2 separate regions of the Homo sapiens genome follow, and region 2 is linked to region 1. The links come from fine-mapping of genetic effects on gene expression. Tissue or cell type: whole blood. Region 1 holds a variant in brackets; the other region holds the start of a gene. All regions are shown on one strand. Distances are from middle to middle.

Region 1 (8,260 bases):
CTGCTAATGAAATCCAGAGTTCTTCTTCCATATCACATCTAGTACAGCACCTAGAATGTGTTACGTGGCATTATCAAGTTTAGTTTTAATAAGTTAAATAGCTTGTGAGGGGGTACAACAGAGCTTCCTTTGAGATATTTTCTTTGACAGTTCAGCCATTTAGGGTCCATAGAATTGTAGAACTGGAAGAGACCTTGGAGATCACCTGTTACAGCCCCCACATTTTACAGAGGCACTGAGCTCACTGAATGCAGCTGTGTCATACCACCTTGGTGCTCACCGAGCGCGGCCCAGTCGTACCACCTTGGTTCTCACTGAGTGTGGCTCTGTTGTACACCTTGGCATTGGTTTAACCTTTCTGTACCTCCTGAGCTCCCTTTTCACTAAGAGAAAACTTCCACTAAAACTTGAGCACTATTTTCCCATCCATTGAGTTACTTTTTTGTTCCTTTTATGTCAGAAGTCTTAGATTGTTGCTGATGATATATTTAAAGATAGCCAACTCTAGGTTATTTACTCCAGGAGAGGGGAACACTGTTATAAATCGTCTAGAAATCTATGATTATTTGGCCTTGCAAAGTACATTATACATTTTTCGTAATTTCATACATTTTGAATTATGTTTATATAGACTAATATTAAAAGTATTGTGCATTAGTTGGGTGTGGCAAGGGGCCAACAGCTTTTTCTGGAAAAGAGTAAAAGCAATTTTAAAGAAAGGACATATTTACAGAATAGCTGTTAGGAAAGTAGAGACTGTCAGTAAATGAAAATAGTTGGGATTTACAAATATACTGTTCACTAGACCTGATCATTAAACTGGGCTTTACAACAAGAACTGTACTGTATTCACTTTGTATCTCTAGATTCTATAAAATATAGTAGATACTCACACTGAATTGAATGAATGGATGATTTAAGAGCAGATATGATTATTGTGATTAAACATTTGTGTAGCCCTGAGCTTGTTGGTAGTTTAGGCAAAAACCATGTAACTTGTATAATAGTCATAATCTAAGAAAAATTTACCATTTCTTCAAAACAGGCAGAATTTTTAATTCTTAGAAGTGTGTTATTTAGTTTCCAAATATTTGGAGATTTTCCATCTTTCTATTACTGATTTCTGATTTAATTCCATTGTGGTTCCAGAACACCCTTCCTATAACTTAAATTGTTTTAAATTTGTTGAGACTTATATTATGGCTCAGAATATGACCTATTTTGGTAAACAGTCCTTGTACACATGAAAAGAATGTATAGCCTGCTTGTGCCTGTAATCCCAGCACTTTGGGAGGCTGAGGTAGGTGGATGACTTGAGCTCAGGAGTACGAGACCAGCCTGGGAAACGTGGCAAAACCCTGTCTCTACAAAAAATAAAAAATAAAAAATAAATTAGCTGGGCATGGTGGTGTGTGCCTGTAGTCCCAGCTACTTGGGAGGCTAAGGTGGGAGGATCGCTGAGCTGAGGAAGTTGAGACTTCAGTGAGCCATGATTGCACCACTGCATTCTAGTCTGGGTGACAGAGTAAGACCTCATCTCAAAAAAAAAAAAAAAAAAAAAAAAAAAAAAAAAAAAAAAAAAGAATGTATAATCCACTGTATAGGGTATTGTATAATGTCAATTAGATCAAGTTGGCTGATAGTGTTATTCAGATATTTGTTATTAGATATTTGATTTTTATCTAGTACTATCAATTACTGAAAGAGGGGTGTTGAAATACTCAACAATAATTGTGGCCTACAGTTCTGTTATTTTTTACTTAATGTTTTTTGAAGATATATTCTTAGGTGCATTTATGTTTGTTATGTCCTCTTGATAAATCGGCCTCATTGACATTATGAAGTAACCTTCTTTGTCTGTGATCATATTCTTTGCTCTGAAATTTATAGTCTGATATTAAATTCTAGGCTTCATTTTGACAAGTGTTAGCATGATATTTTTTTTTTTACTTTTAACCTATTGTGTCATTATTTTTGAAATGTATTTCATGTAGGCAGCATACAGTTGGGTCTTATTTTTTAATCCAGTTGGATGATCTCTGCTTTTTAAGTGAGAGTATTGAGACTATTTACATTTCATATGATTATTGATATGTTTGGATTCAAATCTGTCATTTTGCTCTTTGTTTTCTATTTGTTCTGCCTGTATGCCCCCTTTTTTAAGTGATTGCTTTAGAATTCATAACTTAACATAGTCTTCCTATGTAAATAGTATTGTACCACTTTATAGTCTACAAATCTTACAGTGGTGTATTTTCATTTCCCTCATCCCAGCCTTTGTTTTATTATCATCCATTTTACATCATCATATGCGATAAACCCCAAAATGCATTGTCACTACTTTTGCTTTAGATATTTATCTTTTTTTTTTTTTTTGAGACAGAGTCTCGCTCTGTCGCCTAGGCTGGAGTGCAGTGGTGCGATCTCGGCTCCGCCTCCTGGGTTCACACCATTCTTCTGCCTCAGCCTCCCGAGTAGCTGGGACTACAGGCGCCTGCCACCACGCCCGGCTAATTTTTTTCTACTTTTAGTAGAGATGGGGTTTCACCATGTTAGGCAGGATGGTCTCGAACTCCTGACCTTGTGATCTGCCCACCTCGGCCTCCCAAAGTGCAGGGATTACAGGTGTGAGTCACCGTGCCCGGCCTGGAAATATTTATCTTTTAAAGACATTTAAAAAGTAAGAAAAATAGTATTCTATTTTTATTCCTGTATTTACCAATGCCAGTGCTCTTCATTCCTTTGTGTGGTTCAGATTTCCATCTAGTAGTATTTTCCTTCTGTCTGAATGACTTCTTCCTTTACATTTCATATAGTGTGGGTCTTTTGGTATTCTTTCAGCTTTTGTATGTCTAAAAATGTATATTTCACTTTCATTTTTGGGAGGCATTTTAATTTTTGCTAAATGTAGAATTCTAGGTTGGCTGCTGTTTTCTTTCAGTTTTTTAAAGATTTTGTTTCACTGTTTTCTTTCTTTCCAGTGAGAAGTTTACTGTCATTTTAAATCTTTGTTCCTCTGTATATTAGAATTGGCTTCATTCTGGCTGCTTTCAAGACTTTTTCTTTATCACTGGTATTGAGCTGGTGTTTACATCTTTAATGTCTCTACTTAACATGTTTAAAACTTCCTCTGCTTTCTTTTTTTTTGTTTTTATAAATAAAGATGGGGTTTTGCCACATTGTCCAGGCTTGTCTTGAATTCATGGGCTCAAGCAATCCACCCGCCTCCACCTATCAAAGTGCTGGGATTACAGGTGTGAGCCAGGGCACCTGGCCTCCTCTGCTTTCTTGAAAGTATGAAATGACCGGGCGCCGTGGCTCATGCCTGTAATCCCAGCACTTTGAAAGGCTGAGGTGGGCGGATCATGAGGTCAGGAGATCGAGACCATCCTAACACGGTGAAACCCCATTTCTACTAAAAATACAAAAAATTAGCTGGCCGTGGTGTCGGGCGCTTGTAGTCCCAGCTACTCAGGAGGCTGAAGCAGGAGAATGGCGTGAACCTGGGAAGTGGAGCTTGCAGTGAGCCAAGATTGCGCCACTGCACTCCAGCCTGGGCAACAGAATAAGACTCCGTCTCAAAAAAAAAAAAAAAGTATGAAATATAGTTATAATAACTGAATTAGTGGCCTTATCTATTTATTCCATCATATGTGTCATATCTGGATCAGTTTTGACTGATTCCTCTTCTCCTCACTTTGGGTTGTATTTTTCACTTTTTTTTCATATCTTATAATTTTTTTTAAGTGAAAAGCAAGTTTATTAAGAAAGTAAAGGAATAAGAGAATAGCTACTCTGCTTGAGCAGAGCAGCTATGCCTTATAATTTTTTATTGGATACCAGACATGTGGCATGGGTGCTATTTTTGCTCTGCTATAAATATTTTTGAACTTTATTCTGAGATTGTGGTGGGTAATATTGAGTGTTAACTCGATTGGGTTGAAGGATGCAAAGTATTGTTTCGGGGTGTGTCTGTGAAGGTGTTAATATTCAGAGAGATTAACATTTGAGTTAATGTTAACGTAAGAGATTAACATTTGAGTCAGTGGGCTGGGAGAGGCAGACCCACCTGCAATCTGGGTGGGCACCATCTAATCAGCTGCCAGTGTGGCTAGGATAAAAGCAGGCAGAAGTTGGAAGGACTTGACTTGCTGAGTCTTCCCGCCTTCATCTTTCTTCCATGCTGGATGCTTCCTGACCTTGAACATCAGACTCCAAGTTCTTCAGCTTTTGGACTCTTGGACCTACACCAGTGATTTGCCGGGGGCTTTCAGGCCTTCAGCTACAGACTGAAGGCTGCACTGTTGGCTTCCCTACTTTTGAGGTTTTCAGACTTGGACTGGCTTCCTTGCTCCTCAGCTTGCAGATGGCCTATTGTGGGACTTCACCTTGTCATCCTGT[G/T]AGTCAATACTCCTTAATAAATTCCCCTTCATATATACATCTATCCTATTAGTTCTGTCCCTCTAGAGAACCCTGACTAATACAGAGATGGTATTTAGTTACTTTTGAATAATTTGATTCTTTCAAGGCTTGCTTTTAAGTTTTATTAGACAGTACCAGCCCAGTGGTTAGTCTAGAACTAATTTTCCCCGTGCAGCAGAGGTAGTACTCTTCTGAGTACTCTACCTGGTGCCTTGCAAATTGCAAGGTTTTTCCACACTGACTGGTGGGAATACAAACTTTTCTTGCCCAGTATTAATCTGGAGATCGTTTCTTCTGAGCCTTTCTAGTGGTTCTCTCCCTGGCCTCAGGTGATCTCCTGACATCTATGTACAGATCATTCATTACTCAGCTGAAGACTCCAGGACCCCCTCGGCAGACCTCTGGAGCTCTCTCCCTCAGGTCCTCTGCCAGCTCTCTGCCCTCTGCTTCTCTAGCTTCCTTGGCCTCCTCAGACTCTCAGTTTTGTCTTCTCATCTTAGGGAGATGGCTTATCTCTGCCTGGTTTCCCCTCCCTGCACTGAGGCCTGGGAACTCTCTGGTCAGCAAGCTGGGCAATCATAGGGCTCATCTCATTTGTTTTCCATCTTTCAGGGATCACTGCCCCATTCTGGCTAATGTCCAATGTCTGGAAGCCTGTTGATGTGTGTGTGAGTGTGTGTGTATGTGTGTTTTAGTACCTCTTCCTTTCTTTTTTTTAATTTAACTTTTAACTTTTTTAACTTTTAATTTAACTTTTTTTAACTTTTTTTTACTTTTAATTTTTTAAAAATTAAAAAAGTTAATTTTTTTAACTTTTAATTTAACTTTTTTAATTTAACTTTTAAGGGGTACATGTGCAGGTTTGTTATATAAGTATACTTGTGCCATGGGGGTTTGTTGTACAGATTATTTTGTCACCCAGGTATTAAGCCTAGTACCTATTAGTTATTTTTCCTGATCATCTCCCCACTTCACCCTCCACCTTCTGATAGGCCACAGTGTGTGGTGTTTCCCTCTATGTGTCCATGTGTTCTCATAAGTTAGCTCCCACTTATAAGTGAGAACATGTGGTATTCGGTTTCCTGTTCTTGTGTTAGTTTGCTAAAGATGATGACCTCCAGCTCCATCCATGTTCCTGCAGAGGACATGATCTCATTGTTTTTTATGACTGCATAGTATTCCATGGTGTGTATGTACCACATTTTCTTTATCCAGTCTACCAGTGATGGGCATTTAGGTTGATTCCATGTCTTTGCTATTGCGAATAGTGCTGCAATGACCATTTGCATGCGTGTGTCTTTATAATAGAATGCTTTATATTCATTTGGGTATATACCCAGTAATGGGATTGCTGGGTCAAATGGTATTTCTGTTTTTAGGACTTTGAGGAATCACTGCACTGTCTTCCACAATGGTTGAACTAATTTACACTCCTTCCAACAGTATATAAGCATTCCTTTTTCTCCACAACCTTGCCAGCATCTGTTATTTTTTGACTTTTTAGTAATAGCCATTCTGACTGATGTGAGATGGTATCTCATTGTGGTTTTGATTTACGTTTCTCAAATGATCAGTGATGTTGAGCGTTTTTCCATAGGATTGTTGGCCTCGTGTATATCTTCTTTTGAGAAGTGTCTGTTCGTGTCCTTTGCCCACTTTTTAATGGGGTTGTCTTTTTCTTACAAATTTGTATAGACCCCTTCCTTATACCCCTTTACTGCAAAAATTAACTCAAAATTAAAGACTTAAATGTAAAACCCAAAGTACAAAAACCCTGGAAGGCAACCTAGGAAATACCATTCTGGACATAGGAGTGGGATAAAGATTTCATGATGAAGACACCAAAAGCGATTGCAACAAAAGCAAAAATTGACAAATGGGATCTAATTAAACTAAAGAGCTGCACAGCAAAGGAAATTATCAACAGGGTGAACAGACAGCCTACAGAATGGGAGAAAAATTTTGCGAACTATGCATCTGACAGAGTTCTAATATCCCTTTCTTTTCCTTACACCACTCTAATCCAGATGCTTGGCTTCTTTCTTGTCAGACATGTATACCAGCTTTTGAATTGTTCTCAGTAAATAGAAGCTACCATTTATTGATGATTTATACAATGCTAAGCATTTTGCATGCATTTTTTAAATTAATGCTCACAACATTTTGTAACTCTTACTGATTCCTGTTTTACAAAAGCTGAGGCACAGAGAAGTTAAATAACTTGCCCAAGGTCCCACAACTGATAAGTAGTGGAGCCAGGATTTAAACATAGGTAGTCTTGTTCTAAGTGCCGGTGACCCCCCTGCCGGCGCTGCTCACTGCTCTCAGATTTGGCTTGCCAAGGGTCATCCTGGTCACATTTATTTCCCTCTCAAAAGTCTTCAGAGGCTTCACGTCACTTCCCAGATAAACTAAAGACTTTAGAGGATGGAATTCAAGATCCTCCACGACATGTCGTCAGTCTGCTTTTATAGCATTATCTTACATGTTTGAATCCTGTGTGTCTTTTAAGTTGAACTCGTTGCCTTATCTGAACTCAGGCACTTTCTCACTTCAACACTTTGATTCACGTATTCCTCTCTAATTAGAATGCTTTCACCCGTTATCTCTACCTATCAAAATCTTTAACACCTTTCAAGGATCAGCTGAAAAGCCTGCTCCTTCATTGAACTTTTCTGGATAAGCCCTGTCACATATGGTCTATCTCTCACTCACTCATTTTCTTCTTTGAACCTCTCTAGAATTCCCTGTATATGTCTTTTAAGGGTGTTATCACCAACTGCCTTGTATTTTGCTGTTAGTATACCTGTACATTTCCCATATTATATTGAAAACTCTGTAAGTGGGGAACAGATCTTATTTATCTTCTTGCCTTACTCCGTGATTCCTGCAGATCCTTGCATATAGGGTATAGTACAAAGCATTACACATAACGAGTAAGTGTTCAATACATAATTTGTTGAGTGACTGAGTGAATAAATTTTTGTTCTTCTGTTTGTTCTTTAGTTCATTCATCTTTTAAAGTAACATCTTGAAAGCAGGTTCAGCTCACATACAAAATATCTCATAGCGTTCTTTATATGGACCATTGCTCTCACCCAGAATATTTCTTAGCTTTTTTTATATTAAAGGGTGAAATGGAAGGTTAAGAGTTAGAAGCGTATTTGATCTTTTCCTGACCCTCTCCTGACTTTTGTGTGACTTCAAGCATGTCACTTGAACCTCCCAGTGACCTCAGCTGTGAAACGGGGCTGCCTGATGTCACAGAGGATTGTGAAGAGCAGCAAATCACAGTCCTTGTCCAAACTGAATCACCTGCAGGGTCTGACGCCTGCATGGAATGATGAGGGAAATTTAATTTTCCAAGCAAAGTGGTCAGTTGGACCCACACTTTGAATGTCTATGGGCACAATTAGATGAGTCCTTGAAAATCTGTTGCTTTTCCTACTCAAAATGTTTCTCATGTTATGCTTCTAAATGTTCTTATTTTTTAGACAAAAAAGCATATTGTAAATGTTTCCCTTTTTAGACTTCTGAGGTAGGAATATATTACAAGATATTTTTAAAAGAAGTTGAATTTTGGAAAGAATAATGTACCATGAATTTCTATTTTATACTATTGAATTTAGAAAATGTTCTGCCTCAAAGAGAACATTTTGAAAATGATGCTAATCACATTTTAAAGATAACTATTTCATAATGACCATGTGTAATTCATGAAACGTGTTTCTACCTTTTTGTCTGTTTGTTTGGTGCAGGTAGTCAAGACAATTGCAGATAAGTAGAGCAGAAAACAAATAAAAATACTGTTAGCCATCTTGTAAACAGAACCTTTTTA
Region 2 (8,000 bases), 94 kb before region 1:
TTAGAGAAATACAAATTAAAACTACAGTAAGATATCACATTATACCCAACAGGATAGCTACTATAAACAAATATAGAAAATAACCAGTGGTGGTGAAAACATGGAGAAATTGGAACTCTTATGCACTTTTGGTGAGAATGTAAAATGGTACAGCCACTCTGGAAAACAGTATGGTGATTCCTCAAAAAATTAAACATAGAAAATATGATCCAGCAATTCCACTTTTGAGTATACATCCCAAAAAGTCGAAAGGAGAGACAGGAACAGATATTTGTACCCCCATGTTCATATCAGCATTATTCACAATAGCCAAAAGGTGGAAACAACTTAAATGTTCATTGATAGATGAATGGATACACACAATGTGTTATATACACACAACAGAATTTTGTTCAGCTTTGAAAAGGAAGGAAATGGCCAGGGGTGGTGGCTCATGCCTGTAACCCCAGCACTTTGGGAGGCCAAGGTGGGTGGATCACCTGAGGTCAGGAGTTCGAGACCAATCTGGCCAACATGGTGAAACCCTGTCTCTACTAAAAATACAAAAATTAGCCTTGTGTGGTGGTGGGCACCTGTAATCCCAGCTACTTGGGAGGCTGAAGTGGGAGAATTGCTTGAACCCAGGAGGTGGAGCCTAGATCATGCCACTACACTCCAGTGTTGATGACACAGCAAGAGTACATCTTAAAAAAAAAAAAAAAAGTAAGGAAATGCTGACACATGTTACAACATGATGGACCCTGAAGGCATTATACCAAGTGAAATAAGCCAGTCACAAAAAGGCAGATACTGGATGATTCTATTTATATGAGGTATCTAGAGTAGTCAAATTCATAGAAATAGAAAGTTGATTGGTGGTTGCCAGGGGCTGGAGGGAAGGGGAAGTGGGCAGTTGTTTAATGAATATAGAGTTTCAGTTTTGCAAGATGAAAATCTGGAGATTGGCTGTACAACAGGATGAATGAATGTATGTAACACTACTGATCTGCACACTTCAAAATGAGTACAATGGTAAATTTTATGTGTATTTTATCACAAGGAAAAAAATCACTAGACATCTAACTTTTCAGTAATGTGTCTATTTTCAGTTAAATTTGCCAGTTAACTGAAGCCAATATAGGCCAGTTTTCATATTCCTTAGTGTTATCACACTGGTGCACTTACTGTTTTACCATTTTCCCTTCTGATTTCATTTTTCTGTTAGCATTTACTACTATCTAACATATATTTTACTCATTTGTCTGTGTTCCCCATCAGAATATAACTTCATGAGGGGAGGGATTTTCTATTACACTTAGTGAAAAGTAAATCCCTCAAGTAGGAACACTACAAGTAAGCACAGTTTTTTTTTTACAGTAAGTTTGCTTAATGGCTAGTAAACTATCTCAGCCAGTACCTGAGTGACTATTCTGACTTGTATCATTTAACAAGAAAAAAGGCCTGGCGCGCTGTCTCACGCCTGTATTCCTAGCACTTTGGGAGGCCGAGACGGGTGGATCACTTGAGGTCAGGAGTTCCAGACCAGCCTGGCCAACATGGTGAAACCTCGTCTCTACTAAAAGTACAACAATTAGCTGGGCGTGGTGGCACATACCTATAGTCCTAGTTACTTGGGAGGCTGAGGCAGGAGAATCGCTTGAACCTGGGAGGTGGAGGTTGCAATGAGCCGAGACTGCGCCAGTGCACTACAGTCTGGGTGACAGAGTAAGACTCCGTCTCAAAATAAATAAATAAAATAAAATAAAATGAAAAAAAGTACTAAATGCAAACTTCTTAAGATCACATGCAACTTCGATGTTAAATACTAAATATTCCTTAAATTTAGACAGTATTCAATTTGGTAAAGATCAGAAAGTTATATTTTGTCATTTATGATATCAAGTGGAATGTATTATCAGTGATTATGATGCTTCTCGCAATGAGAGTTATAACTTTCTGGAAAAATCCTTGCTCAAATCATCAAAGTTAAGATTTCTTACTACATAAAGGCTATGAAGAGCTGACGTGTAATTATATTGGCTCTGCAAATATTGGAACAGAAATATGAGTTTGCCATTAGTGTAAGAAAAGCTTCAGAATATGTATGCAAATTTGGCAAATTGAGTTGGTTTTCCCCACGGTACTTCGAATAAAAGAGACATTTTAACAAATCACAGGTTCATAGAAAATCTCTAGTTTCGTGGTCTATTTTCTAAAATAATAGGAAATGAACTTTTAATAAAAGTACATGAGGACTTTTGATGAACGGTTTATTTTTCACAGAAGTGAAGTGCAGGTGAAAAGGGGAAATTCCTAGAATATCTGAAGGATCTGACTAAATGAATTTCTACCTAAGCTATTGATTTACAGTAACTTAAAATGTGATAATTTATCTCCTACAATGGCCTTTCAAATTAAATATAAAAGTAACTCAGAGTAAAGTATGCAGAAAAAATTTTGGTATTGTAACTGAAAATGACCAACATTAATTTTTTTCTCTCACATTAATCAAGCACCTTACTGTTAGAAGGGAAACTGACAAGCCTCCTCAACCGAGTTTATACAAAATTCAACCCCAGAAAGTAAAGCCAATTCGTGCACCTTCATAAGAAAGAAATAAAGGACGAACCTACACATTACAATTTGTAAAGAAACTTCTGTAGAGGCACCATCGTTCTACAACCTTATGCACTTTAAAATCTGAGGTAACAAGGCATTTGAAGATAACCAAGGTTGGCCGGGCGCGGTGGCTCACACCTGTAATCCCCCCAGCACTTTGGGAGGCTGAGGTGGGCGGATCACGAGGTCAGGAGTTTGAGACCAGCCTGGCCAACATAGTGAAACCCAGTCTCTACTGAAAATACAAAAATGAGCGGGCACGGATGGCGCACGCCTGTAGTCCCAGTTACTCGGCAGGGGTTGGGGGCTGGTGGGGGTGGTAGTGCTGAGGCAGGAGAATCGCTTGAATCCGGGAGGCTGAGGTTGTGGTGAGTAGAGGTCGCGCCGTTGCACTCCAGCCTGGGCGACGGAGCGAGACTCCGTCTCAAAAAAAAAAAAAAAAAAGATAACCAAGGTTTATTGCTACTTCCGTGATATCACCATATCACCAACTGCGTAAGCAGTGCTATTTAGTTGAAAATACATGGACTAGACCGAATATTTCTGCAACAGTTTAATAAGAGACGATGATGCGACTACTGCAGCTGTCCCCAGGCAATTAAACTCTTCGGCGAATTTCTTTACTATTGCTTTTGAACAGGGAACTGTTTGCTATTTTAGGGCACTCGTGCGGTAAAGAACTTCACTGAAAAATGCAAATATGTTTTGCTAATGTGGGAGAAAGATGATGATCCTCTGAACCTGTGACTTGGAAGGGGGGATAAAAAAGAACTATTTCTTGAATTCTTGCCTTGCTCTTGCTGATTCGATGCACACAACCCCACGAACATTCAGATTCATGGCTTGACAAAGTGGGGATAACCGGGAGCTGCAGCCCCGTCTTTGAAGCTTTTGTAAAGACAAACGGTCTGCAATGTTAAGCCTTAAATTGGCTTTTGGCGGACTCCAGCCTTTTACCCTTCGTTTGGTAGATGTTTTCACCTCGCTGTCATTAAGCAGGGTCAGGAAATGGAAGGGCCGTGACCGGGTCGCCGCGGGCGCTCTGTGGGCGATGAGGGTCTCCTGAGCGAGCAAGACCAGTCTCTCCCCGACTCGCCACGCGCCACGCGCCGCGCGCCGCGCGCCGGTTCCTCGGCTTCCCACGCCGGGGGCGCATCCTCCCGGGAGCTGCTGCCCTTTTCCAACATGGCGCCGCGGGAGGCGGGTCCCGCTCGTCGGCTCCCGGGGTTCCGGCGCCGCGCGTTTTGGTTCCGGAGTAACAGTGTCGCCGCCGCCTTCCTCCTCCTCCTCTCGCCGCTACCGCCGTCGCCGCCGCCGCAGCCGCCGCCAGTCCGCGCGGCCTCGGGTGGCCGGAGCTCAGCCTGCGCGCGCCGCGCCCTGTGTCTCCGGGTGGGGCAGAAGACTCGCCCCTTGAACCTCCCGCGGGGACTCTCCGTGGTGTGGCGGCCCTGGGGCTCTTTCTTAATAGCCCCGGACTGAGTCCCCTCCAGTCGAGGACCCTCTCCTAGTCCACTGACGAGCGGTGGACACCTGCCGCTGTATCTCCCCCAAACCGAGTCCTTGCCCTGCTGCCTCCTCATACCCACACGGCGGCAGAGACCTTCACCATAGCGTTCGCTCAACTCCAGAACCTTCCGACCTCCGCTAGTTCCTGCGGGCCTTTGCCCGCTTCCCGGTGCACCCTCCCCGGGAGACACCTCAGACCCCCGACAGCCTGGGCAGGCTCGGTGCCTGCGGGTGCGTTCCTGATCACCCCTCCCCTCTTCCCTCCCCCTCATCCTCCATTCCCTTGTTTTCACCCTCTGTCCTCTGCCCGTCACTCCCCTTGTCACCTCTTGGAGCCCCCTCCTAACCAGCGGCCAGTGGGTTTCCCATACCCCAGGATGTGAGCCTCTTTAACCTGTAATGCTGTGGCTAGCCCTTGGCCCCTTTCCTGCCATGGAGAACCAGGTGCTGGTAATTCGCATCAAGATCCCAAATAGTGGCGCGGTGGACTGGACAGTGCACTCCGGGCCGCAGTTACTCTTCAGGGATGTGCTGGTGAGTGGTAATCTCAGTGTCCGGATGCCAGCAAGGGGGACTCAGGGACTTGAGTAGTCAGCACCTTGACCACTGGTGACCTGAGCCAGTGGCAATGGCTACTGCTGGCTTCCTGTGGAGGCAGTTTTATTGCTTCAGGCACAGCATTGATAAATTGCAACCACTAAAACCTGGCAAATGTCTAGGACCCTGGGGAGATAGATCAATCTGACTGAACCCCTGCCCTCAGAGAGCTCATGGCCCGGGCTGGGACACACATATAGACACAACCACGCAAATGCAAACTGCTGAATCTAGAAGAGAGGTTTTTTCCCCCCAAGTGTTTCGGGGAATGTCCTTGGACAGATTCCAGCCTTGTTTTTCTACTGAGTTCTCTGAACTTGGTGACCAGCTGAGAAAGGGAAAAAGGACAACTTTAACTTACCATGTTTGAGCACACTGTTTCATTAATTTATTTTGAGACAGGGCCTCACTCTGTCGCTCAGGCTGCAGTGCTGTGGCACGATCTCGGCTCACTGCAGCCTCTGCCTCCTGGGCTCAAGCGATTCTCCTACCTCAGCCTCCCAAGTAGCTGGCACATGCCATCACACCTGGATAATTTTTGTATCTTGTAGAGACGAGGTATTGCCATGTTGCCCAGGCTGGTCTTGAACTCCTGCGATTTGCTTGCCTCGGCCTTCCCAAAGTGCTGAGATTACAGGTGTGAGTTACTGTGCCCAGCCTGAGCAAACTTAAAGCATCATTGAATGTAAGACATTTTACTTAGAAAAAAATGCTAACCATGACAGTATGACACATCATCCGTTATTAAAATGAGTCCAGTTTCAGAGACGGTAAAAGTAAGGGAAAATGTGCATCTTAGAATTGGTGATATTTTACATTCAGATTTTTCAGAATATATTTCAAATAAAATGATGGAATTTTAGAGCAGAGTGTAACACTGTAGGTGGCCTGTTCAGCTGATGTTTCTTTTTTGCAGATAGTTACTGAGGAGCAGTGAGGTGAAATGGCTTTTCCAAAGCTGTGAGCTCCTGAGTGGGAGAGTCAGTACCAGAACTAAAATTTTGTTTCATTGACTTAGTAGGTTTCTTTCCCTACATGTTGCAGCCGCTTCTAATCTTTCTGGTATTCATTTGAGATAGACAGGGTGCCTTGTGCCCATTCTACATGCAGAATAACTGAGGCATGGAAGACAGAAGCGGACATTCCGAAAAGCACATCACTACCTGCAAGTTAAGAGTGGGCAAGGTGGCAGGATCTTGGGAAGAGGAAGATTTGTGATGTGATTTTTCATTGTCTTGGGTAACTTAATCAAAATTTGATTTCTATAACTTCATTTTGAGTTCTAGATGTTACTGACTGCCCAGGCCATGCAGATTTTTGGGTGCCTTGACCAGGAGCTTTCCATATTGTGCATCAAATGCCATCCTTCTCTTTGTATCCGGAGTTCTCCACACAGTCATGCACATACAGATTTCCCCTCATGATAAGGCCCAGGCTCCTTCATGTGGTCCTCTGGGCACATCTGGATTGGCCCCTGTCTGCCTGGCACCTGTGTCATCTCTCTTCACGGCCCCATAAACTTCTGTGCCTCACTTACATAGGTTGATTTTCATTTCTCCCAGGTGTCCAGGCTGTCTGCACTCTGCTCTTCACCGGTCAATTCCCACCTGTCCTTCCAAGCCAAGTTGTGCTTTTTCTCTGTGTCATTCTTGGTTATGTGCCCCACCTCTGTGTCGTCACAGCTTTGTGTGGGTCCCCCAGCAAAGCACATGTTTGATCATGATTCTTTGTCTCCTCCACTAGATGGTAAACTTCTGGAGGAGATAGATATGTTTGTTTTTGTTTCTTCATAGGACCCCAAAATACTTGTTTAAGAAGGGAGCTTAAAAGAGGATGCATGCAATTATGGTTCTGTGGACAGAACACTAGGTTTAGAGTCAAGGAATTTGGGTTTAATTGCAAGCTGTCCCACTGACTAGGCAAGTCAGTCTACCTCTCTGAGCCTTAGTTTCCTTATTTGTAAAACAGGGAAACTTGTACCTTCCTCAAAGACTTGGAAAGATTATGTGAGATTGTGACTGTGATGAGAAAGATGGGTTTTCTCTTACTCATTTAAAACAATGGAAGGTTGATTATTATGTGATTATATTATTTGGTTATGTGATTATTTCAAGAATAGCCCAGTGTTTAAGACCACAAACTCTGGAGCCAGGTTGTTTAACTTGCAAGTTGTACTACTGGGGCAAGTATCTTCTGTATCTCAGTTTCTTTATTTGTGAAAAAAAAGTTGGGGAGGGGTGAAAGTAATGCCTACCTCCTAGAGTTCTGAGGACTCCTTGAGTTGATACATGTAAAGCACTCAGAACAACTTAGCACATAGTAAGCGCTCCATTAGTGTTGTTATTATTGATGGGATTGTTATTATAAGGGATTGGACTTGGGTCTTCTGTTTCTTGAGCATCTCTAAGTTGTACCTGGCTCAAGGCTGACTGGCTTAACAGGAAACACGAGTGGCCCCACCACTAGAGCTCAGCATGCCAGGTGTCTGCACACTTTTGGCTAGGTAAGCCCAGGTGGAGCATGTTTTGTCAGAAAGGCCTGACGAAGGACCTGTGGCAGTGGGTGTTCAGTGCTATCTCCTAGTGCTCCATTTTAGCAAATGTTCAAGCCCAGATCATGGCAGACTCCTGTGATCTGTTCTCCAGGTTTACTTCATCTCTTCATCAAGAAAAGGCAAGAACCAAGAGACACGTCAGCATCTCTGGCTTGGAACCTTAAACTTTAAAGTCACGTGGAACCTGGAAGAATCCCCTCATCTAATTCAGACTCATTTCGAATGAAGAGGCATGAACCCCACAGGGGGAAAATACCTTGCTAAAGCCACCCAGCTAATTTTTGGCAGAACCTGACACAGATGCCAGAAGCAGGTTGTAGTCACCGAGTCAGCCATAACTGAGTGTCTCGGACCTGAAGTCAGCAGTTGAGGGCTCCAGTCACTGTGCATCAAATAGCTGGGAGACCCTGGGCAAGTCAGTCGGTCTCTCTGGGCCTTGTCTTTTGTCTGAATCATCAGGGACTGGCTGAACTATGGAGGCTGACCTGACCCTCAAAGGTAGAGACATTTGGGTCTTCTGTTTTGCAGCTTTCTGTGTTTCTCTTTTTCCCTGGAGACTGAGTTCCTAGTTTTGGGAAAACTATACAAGAGGTCTGGTTAGTGTGTGATGAGAGAGAATGCCCAACCCTCTCCCCTCTTCTTTTTGTATTCTGTGGTCTCCAAGCTCAGATTTCCCCTCATCTATAAGACTTCTGGGCCAGGAGTGGTGGCTTAGGCCTGTAATGCCAACACTTTGGGAGGCCGA

Evidence for each region. PIP is the estimated chance that this variant, and not a neighbour inherited with it, causes the effect.
Region 2: it holds the start of MAP2K5, and the variant in region 1 is fine-mapped to the expression of MAP2K5 in whole blood (INTERVAL, PIP above 0.99).

What each region holds. Positions count from the first base shown.
Region 1 is chr15:67,632,828-67,641,087 of GRCh38, forward strand. All of the region lies in intron 9 of MAP2K5 (mitogen-activated protein kinase kinase 5), which reads left to right. Among named protein-coding and RNA genes, the nearest start is that of MAP2K5, 94 kb to the left of the region's middle. The variant G/T (reference allele first, on the strand shown) is at 4,402.
Region 2 is chr15:67,538,833-67,546,832 of GRCh38, forward strand. MAP2K5 (mitogen-activated protein kinase kinase 5) reads left to right here and starts at 3,871. Exons shown (of 22, transcript NM_145160.3): 1 at 3,871-4,638. The coding sequence starts at 4,504. It overlaps MAP2K5-DT (MAP2K5 divergent transcript), which reads right to left and starts at 3,798. Exons shown (of 1, transcript NR_186334.1): 1 at 2,236-3,798. RefSeq lists enhancers at 688-777, 2,811-3,311, 2,964-3,013 and a silencer at 3,887-4,006.